2 linked regions of the Homo sapiens genome follow. The protein of the gene in region 1 interacts with the protein of each later gene in a biochemical or structural test. Each region holds a gene or a part of one and is shown on either strand. Other genes may lie near its edges. The genes, in order: SUDS3 and SRPK1.

What was found.
Region 2: of the proteins of SUDS3 (region 1) and SRPK1, one has a biochemical effect on the other in vitro, tested with the Homo sapiens proteins (one large-scale study listed by BioGRID and IntAct).

The regions. Positions count from the first base shown.
Region 1 is NC_000012.12:118,414,261-118,418,560, forward strand, and holds the end of SUDS3 (sin3 histone deacetylase corepressor complex component SDS3), read left to right. Parts: intron 1-74; coding exon 75-173; 3' UTR 174-3,773; downstream 3,774-4,300.
Region 2 is NC_000006.12:35,868,778-35,872,598, reverse strand, and holds part of SRPK1 (SRSF protein kinase 1), read left to right. Parts: coding exon 1-36; intron 37-1,639; coding exon 1,640-1,665; intron 1,666-2,104; coding exon 2,105-2,318; intron 2,319-2,697; coding exon 2,698-3,117; intron 3,118-3,488; coding exon 3,489-3,589; intron 3,590-3,821. UniProt on the Homo sapiens protein: Serine/arginine-rich protein-specific kinase which specifically phosphorylates its substrates at serine residues located in regions rich in arginine/serine dipeptides, known as RS domains and is involved in the phosphorylation of SR splicing factors and the regulation of splicing.

The sequences.
Region 1 (4,300 bases):
ATATTTTGATGGTGTAGGAGATTTGCTCTTCTGTATTTAACTTTTCATCTTGTTCCCTTTCCTCTCCCCTGCAGATCTGGGTGAGGAAGACAAGTGACAGCACCAAGATGAGGATCTACCTGGGCCAGCTTCAGCGCGGGCTCTTCGTGATCCGCCGGCGCTCAGCTGCTTGACTTTCTACAGTGCTCTTCTCTTGACCCTTTTTCTGGAGTGGGTTTTATTTTTGTTTTGTTTCGTTTTCTCCTTAATAGAAAAATGTTAACTTACTGGGAATAGCTACTCAGCCTTGGAAATGGAGAGCACTGCAGTGAATTCTTTAGGGCACTTTTGTGGCCGGATGCTTCCAACTTTGTCAGTCTTTTCTGCCTCAACTTCTTCCAGACATCAGTCACCATGAGACTGTTTTACTTTCAGGCGTATTGGGGGGTTTGATTTACTTTCCTTTTATTTCTTTATTTTTTGCTTATACTTGTTTTTGAAAACCTCCTCTGAGTTTGAAGGGACAGCTATTTTTATTGATTATCTTTAAGTCTCTCTACCATGGAGAAGAGCAGGAAGGGATACACTCTCCAGTGCATTTTCATGTTTTGAATCTGATTAGTGGATCACGTAGCTACTTTCCCTGTCGCGTCCAATTCACTATTTGCCCAGAAGCTTGGGGCAGAGGTCCTAGCAGGAGATGATGAATTCTCGTGGCTCTCGGCCTTCTCAGAGAAATAAATGCTTTGTGTAACATCTGTGCACACCATCCATTCCGCTCGCTGAGCGATGGAAAAGCTTGCCTGGAAGACTATGTGCACTGAAGTAAATGGGGTTGGGGGAGGGGACATTTCATATTTATAATGTGCTGAAGGTACCATATTTTAAATGTTATTTAATGCAGGTGATTTATTCAAACATTTGTTCTAGCTTAAGCTGGAATAAGCAGTGGTCATTTCAGAAGTTTTCATTTGTAATTCCTTCCTCTCCCTTGTTCCCAAGTAGGTAGTAGTAAGTATGTGCCACAGGCTGATTATCTGGGTAATCTTTTACGGGTGGGAGGTGAGATTGATAGTGCAATAATCAGTGATCTATAGACCCTCATGCACGATTCAAGTTTCACTCTTGTGGCTGATGCCATTATTGCACATTGGCCATTCCAAACCTGTGGAGAACTTTGTTGTCAGGCCCTGAGCGCTCACAGCTTCATTTGGCCCAGGTTGAAGACAAGGAAAGCTCTGCTGTGGCTGCCTCTGGACTGACACCCTCCCTAATGAGTCCTGATGAAACAGCCTTTCCTACATCCTTCCCTCACTCCCATGATTGGAGAAATGATTCATTGGGTGATGAGTGTTGGGGTTTTCTATACTCATGTTGCCATCTTGAGATGTTCAAAAAATTTGGGGTTAGAGCAACTGTTAGCGTCTCTATGAGCAATCAGTAGAACTTACACATCCTAGGAAATCTTTCTTTGTAAGTAATTCTTTTGGTCTCAAGTGATTCTCTTCATGTTGTCTCTTGATGTACATACCCCCAAGCAAGTTGGGGGGACTGTGATGACAATTAAATCACCTTCTCTGAAGTTCTGGCTCTGCAGAGACCAAACCTTACTGACTTGTACAGACTTGTACAAGTAAAGACTTATACAGATAGATTTTTGTTTTAACTTACAATCCGTTTTTTCCTCTTTTTTTTTTTTTTTTCTGGTGTTGGAGTCTTATTTAGAAAACAGGATAAATGACGCTGTTATCAAAAGTTGCCTGGGGTTCTGTATTTCTTCTCTGCCCTCCAATCCCCGACTGCTATGATGTTTACTACAGTGAACCCAGCCCATGGTAAACACAGGCTTCACCTGTTCTTGTTTGTTAGCCTTGACTGTGAGGCAGGACTTCCCTCGCTTGAACTGTTACACATACGATGTGTGTGTCACATCACATATTGTGCAGCTGTTGGTTTTCATGTAGTGCCCTGCGATGGAAATTAGATATATTTCATGTATTTTTCCATTGAAGGTGGAGTTTTTCAATGATCATGTGTTTTGTCCTCCTAAACAGTATACCAAAGTTTGTTTTTATAGTTGAGGATTGTATTGATAACCACTGGGGTTCCGCATTGAAGCAGGAACAAATTGCCTCTTTTTCTGGCCTTCTCTGTGGGACCTCTGCTTTTGTGAAGCAACTATTTATTTGAAGACCAGGGTATGGGCACTTTTGCCTTCTCTCCTCTCTGACTTTTGAGGGTATTGAGGGCGCCCTTAGTCATAGTCTCGACTCCGCCATTGCCTTCTCCTCGGCGTCCTCACAACTCTTAATTGGGCCTAGTGAAAATGGGGGCAGGTGAGAAGTCCATTTTGAGAATCAGCATAGTAAATTACATTTCTAATCCCAGAGGACTTAATATTTTCTTTTGTCACCCCAGAGGTGAAAAATCAGCAGTTGAAGCCTGACAGGCCTCAGTGGTGACCAGGAACAGAAGCAGCCTTCCTGTTAGTAGATGGGGGTACTTCTGTGGTGGGCAGAAGCCTTACTAAAGGGGAAGACAGACTTTGAAGTTTCTAGACGAGAAGGAGGCTAGCTTCTAGCCTGGGTGGCCATTATTCCAAAAGGTCATTGTTTCTCACTAGACCCCAGGGCACCAGATGAATTTCCAAGTTTAAACTCTTTCCTGCAGGTGATTACTTTGAAAAAGGTTGGTCCAGACCATTTTGATCAAGAACCTGTATATGTGTTGTGTTAGAGGCATCTGCCTCAAGTCTATGTACAGTGTTTGCTGCGGGTGTGTTCCAATATTCATTTTACCTCTGCTTGGGGGTTTTGTGTGTTCCCCTCCCCCCATGCCCTGCCTACCCCCTTTTCCCTGAACCACGTCCTTTTGAATAATTTCCAGATGGATTTCTGTAGCCATACCAAAGCCAGGGTGTTTTCATTCATGCGGATACTAGTATTTATAGATGTCTGACTACCTAACTTAATTTTTGTTTTTGAACTTCTAATTGGGGCCAGTGTAAGGTCGATCCCAGAGGCTGATCTGCAAATCAAGCTACATGTATTTGTGTATAAGACCCTGTGTTCAGGACTGGGTGACTTTTCTAAGAAATATGGGGTTTAGAATGGGGTTGACTGTATTTTTTAACCTAATTCTGGAGAGAAGATTGTATTTTTTACAGTTTTTTGGGTTTGGCTTCCTTCTCACATTTCTTTAGCTTTGAATTTTTACTAAATAAATTTCCTCCTGATTAATTTTTTTTTTCTCATCTGGGAATTTGAAATCTCGGTGCTTACTGTTACACCAATTTGTCCAAAGAGTTGAAATCACTTTAATGCCAGAACATGGTAAATTTGCAGCCATTTCAAGCAGGTGATGGTCTTTTTTTATAACATCGTTAACGGGTACCATTAAATATTCTGAGAGGTGAATGTAAAATATAAAAGGTATAGGTTTTTTTTTTTTTTTAAAGAAAACAATAAACTTTCAAAGAGAAAACCAGCATGAAGTCTGTATTGTATCCATTGACTTGATAAGTGATAGAAATTTATTTTAGGTTTTTGATCCATTGCTTATGGGGAAAGGAAGTTAGGGCAGAGGAAGGGATATTCTAGACATTTAATTCTTAGTGAAGACTAAGATACAGAATGATGTCAGGCTAATACTCAGTTTTGTAAAGAGCAATCTGGGGTGTTGACCCTTAAATGTTTGTGCACTCTTCTTGTTGCAGATAAAAGTCATTAAAAATCAAGTGAATAGAATGGATCTTGGGTGGAAAAACAATCTTGAAATAAACTTGTGATTGAGGATATTGTTCATTTGGTGCATGATTAAGGAGGATATTGTTCCTGGCTTTTGAGATAGTGCCTACCAATCTTAACCAAACAGTGATGGTATTTGTACTGCTCCCGGGGTCAGCCAACAAGCCTGCGTGCTGCCACAGGTGACCGACCTGTGACCCAGTTATGGCACCCCTTTGGGAAAGACTGCTTTATGCTTTAGATGATGGAGAGGGGTGGTTTCTGTTTTTAAAATGTTTGAATTAGACAGAAATGTGCACAAGTTTTAATTGTAGAAGTTGTTGAAATCTCTCAAAGTGAATTCATCCATGTAACTATTATAGCATCCAGATCAAGAAATAACATTCCCAGAACCCACAAGCCCCTTAGACTTTCAGCTACTCCTCCCAACTAGTTTTCTCTATTTTAAGTACCTTAACCTTCAAGCTCTTGAGCTGCTTCCTTCCATGGTTGTTCTAGAAGAGCCAGGTACCTGGTATAGGCTAGGGATTGACCAGGAATGCAAAGAGCTAGCAGCAAAGGATATGACTAATTGG
Region 2 (3,821 bases), on another chromosome or scaffold:
AGCGATCTGGAGCTCCTCCGCCTTCCGGATCTGCAGGTGTATTTTCTTTTAGGGACTTCGCTATCATTAGAAGTTAAAAAGAAATTTCTATTTTTATTCTGTTACCAGGGAATTAAACACCACTCAATCCATTTCAACAATAACATATTTAAGAAACATTATCAGCTTCCAAGAGACATTCTCACTGTTACTTCCATAGGGGAAGGAGAAAACTAGATATTGTGTCTTTGTGTTGTATGTTATAAAAGCTGGTGTGTATTGTTTAAAAATATTTTTTCTTATGAGTTGATGATTTTTGAAGTGTTTACCTCTAACTGTGATCACACATGCTCATTTATAGGACTGGTAGTCTGTAGAGGGACAAGATAACATTGCTATTAATAGTTTAGGTTTAAACACTGGAGTAGACAGACTTGGTTTGAATTTGGGCTTCATCCTAGACTGAGAAACCTTAGCTGAGTTATTTTACTTTATTTTCCCTCAACTGCGAATTATTGGGATTAAATGGTAAAGCAGTTAGTAGTGTGCCACACAATATTATATACCAAATAAATTGCGGGACCAGGCACAGTGGCTCATGCCTGTAACGCAACACTTTGGGAGGTTGAGGTGGGTGGATGATTTGGGCCCAGAAGTTTGAGACCAGCCTAGGCAACACAGTAAGACCCTGTCTCTACAAAAATTAAAAAAATTAGCCAGGCATAGTGATGCGTGCCTGTAGTCCATTTACTCAGGAGGCTGGGGCAGGATGATTGCTTGAGCCTAGGAAGTCAAGGCTGCCACGAGTTGTGATAGTACCACTGCACTCGAGCATAGGCAACAAAGTGAGACCCTGTCTAAGACATAAAATTAAATAAATAAATAAAGGCTGCTTTATGATTTTTTTTCTTTTGAGATACAGATTTTAGTTTTAGTAGTGTGTCATTTTTTAGGAACTTGCTTGATCCTCAAGTTGAGTTATTAGTTATACACTTCTTTAAAAAGGAAGACTAAAGAAGGGGGAAATGGGGAGTTGGTTGTTAAATGGATGTAGTTTCTGTTTTACAAGATGAAAACATTCTACAGATCCTGTTATACAACAGTGTGAATAGTGTTAAAACCACTGAATGTACACTTATCTAGAGTATAAATTTTTATTATGTGTTTTTTGTTAACCACAGTTATTATACTAATATTTTAAAAAGAGGAAGACTGAAGATCCTACCTTCCAGCTAAGCTACACTGTTATCCATGACATGCTGTAGAGCAAATTACTATAGCTCTTGATGTCACCTAGACTCCCCTTTTAAAACTGACAGATTCTGGGTAGCATTTGAGGTGAAGAGGTTGTTGCTTGTCCCATTCTATTTTAAGCAGTGCATGGGAATGGAAAATAGGTGATTTTTAGCAACTTTAGTTTACCTGGGGAGGAAGAATTTTATTTATCCCTTTTTTTTAAGTTTGGCAATTTCTATTCATTATTTTCTTTAAAAATGGTAATAATATAGCTTCTACTTAAGTCATTTAAAAACAATAGTTTTCTCTGCAATGTAGACTACATAAGAAAGACTTTTCATTCTGGTAGAGTGTTTTATCTGAGCCTTAGTTTATATTGCCTGATGAATGCCAGAATTCTTACTTGGTTTTCTTTTCTTTTCAGTCAGTACTGCTCCCCAGCCTAAACCAGTAAGTATAAGGTGTTTTTATATTTAATTTTGATCTATGGACTATGGGCATGGGTTCTTCTGTTGTGGATGGTAACAGTTTGTTTCAAGTTTGAGAACCAAAAGGAAAAAAAATTCCTGCGCTTCTATAATTTTCTCCAGTAAATTCCCATGCACCTTCATCACATTTGTACTGGTGAGGCCTCTAAAAAATTCGAGTTTGTCTGAATGTAAACCAACCCCACGGACTGCTCAGAAGACCACACTTTGTTATTTATTCTGTTTTTATTTGGGTTTATAAGAGTATCCCGCATCTTTTAATTTAATGAAAGACTTAAGTGCTATGTTAGGGAAAGATTTGTGAAATTTAATTAGGAAGTAATTAAAGTTAACAACTATCTCCAACTGGGGGTAATTAATTAGCCACCTGAAGGCTTTATCTGTTTGTAATCTCCGCCCAGGCTGACAAAATGTCAAAGAATAAGAAGAAGAAATTGAAGAAGAAGCAGAAGCGCCAGGCAGAATTACTAGAGAAGCGAATGCAGGAAATTGAGGAAATGGAGAAAGAGTCGGGCCCTGGGCAAAAAAGACCAAACAAGCAAGAAGAATCAGAGAGTCCTGTTGAAAGACCCTTGAAAGAGAACCCACCTAATAAAATGACCCAAGAAAAACTTGGTATAAATAGAACATCACGAAAATTACTGTACAACACACTTTAACGTTAATTTATCATTGCTATATAATACAGTGGTTTCATACATACAACACATCTCTGGGGGTATCTTTATAAGAATATGGATCTTGTCATAAATGTTAGGCAGGTAATATTTAAATGTAATTTGTAACTTTTCTCAGGAAATGGAACATAGATTTCATTTAACAATTGGGTAAAAGTAAGATCTTGGCCCTTCCGGAAATAGGTTTTAGATGTTTAGTCATGTTTTTATGTCACTCAGTATAAGTTCTAGAAAATGTTTTAATCTTGTGAGAAATGTTTCTGTTCTTTCACTCACACACATATGCATATATCTTTTTTTGTTCGTTTGTTCCTTAGAAGAGTCAAGTACCATTGGCCAGGATCAAACGCTTATGGAACGTGATACAGAGGGTGGTGCAGCAGAAATTAATTGCAATGGAGTGATTGAAGTCATTAATTATACTCAGAACAGTAATAATGAAACATTGAGACATAAAGAGGATCTACATAATGCTAATGACTGTGATGTCCAAAATTTGAATCAGGAATCTAGTTTCCTAAGCTCCCAAAATGGAGACAGCAGCACATCTCAAGAAACAGACTCTTGTACACCTATAACATCTGAGGTGTCAGACACCATGGTGTGCCAGTCTTCCTCAACTGTAGGTCAGTCATTCAGTGAACAACACATTAGCCAACTTCAAGAAAGCATTCGGGCAGAGATACCCTGTGAAGATGAACAAGAGCAAGAACATAACGGACCACTGGACAACAAAGGTACCTATGCAGCTATACTTCCTCAACACTCCTTCCCTGCACAACACATTCACAGATTTCTAGACTAAAAGTATGATTGTTTTTGTAACTATAGCTTTACAACAGGTGTGTCTAAGTTACGTTTAAATTGTAATCTGTAGCTAACTTTATCCATCATGTACTGAGTACACAGCACTTCATTTGTTGCTGTGAGGGCAGAGGTTTTTAATTCTGGAAACTCAAGGCGTTGCTGTGCTCTTTTTGTCTCAGAAAATGTAAGTTGTCACTTGGGTATTGCTGACTGTATTACTCTTACCTTGGAGAGCTTTATTACTCATTGAGTATTTCTCTGTTCATTGAACAGTCTTATTGATGATGCCTGTTGTCTGTAGGAAAATCCACGGCTGGAAATTTTCTTGTTAATCCCCTTGAGCCAAAAAATGCAGAAAAGCTCAAGGTGAAGATTGCTGACCTTGGAAATGCTTGTTGGGTGGTAAGTTAAACTTGCCTTAATGGTGTTTTGAAGTGACTGGGAGGATGAATGAGAATTTGGACTTAGTTATGCAAAACATCCATAATTCTGTACCCAGATTGATACAACACTTCAGTGAATATTTTTTTACATTTAAAAAAACCTTTTACTATGGAAAAGTTTAAATATACTTACGAAAGTAGAATGGTAATCGTGATCATGAAAAGTCCTTCTGTTACCCCACCCCACTCCA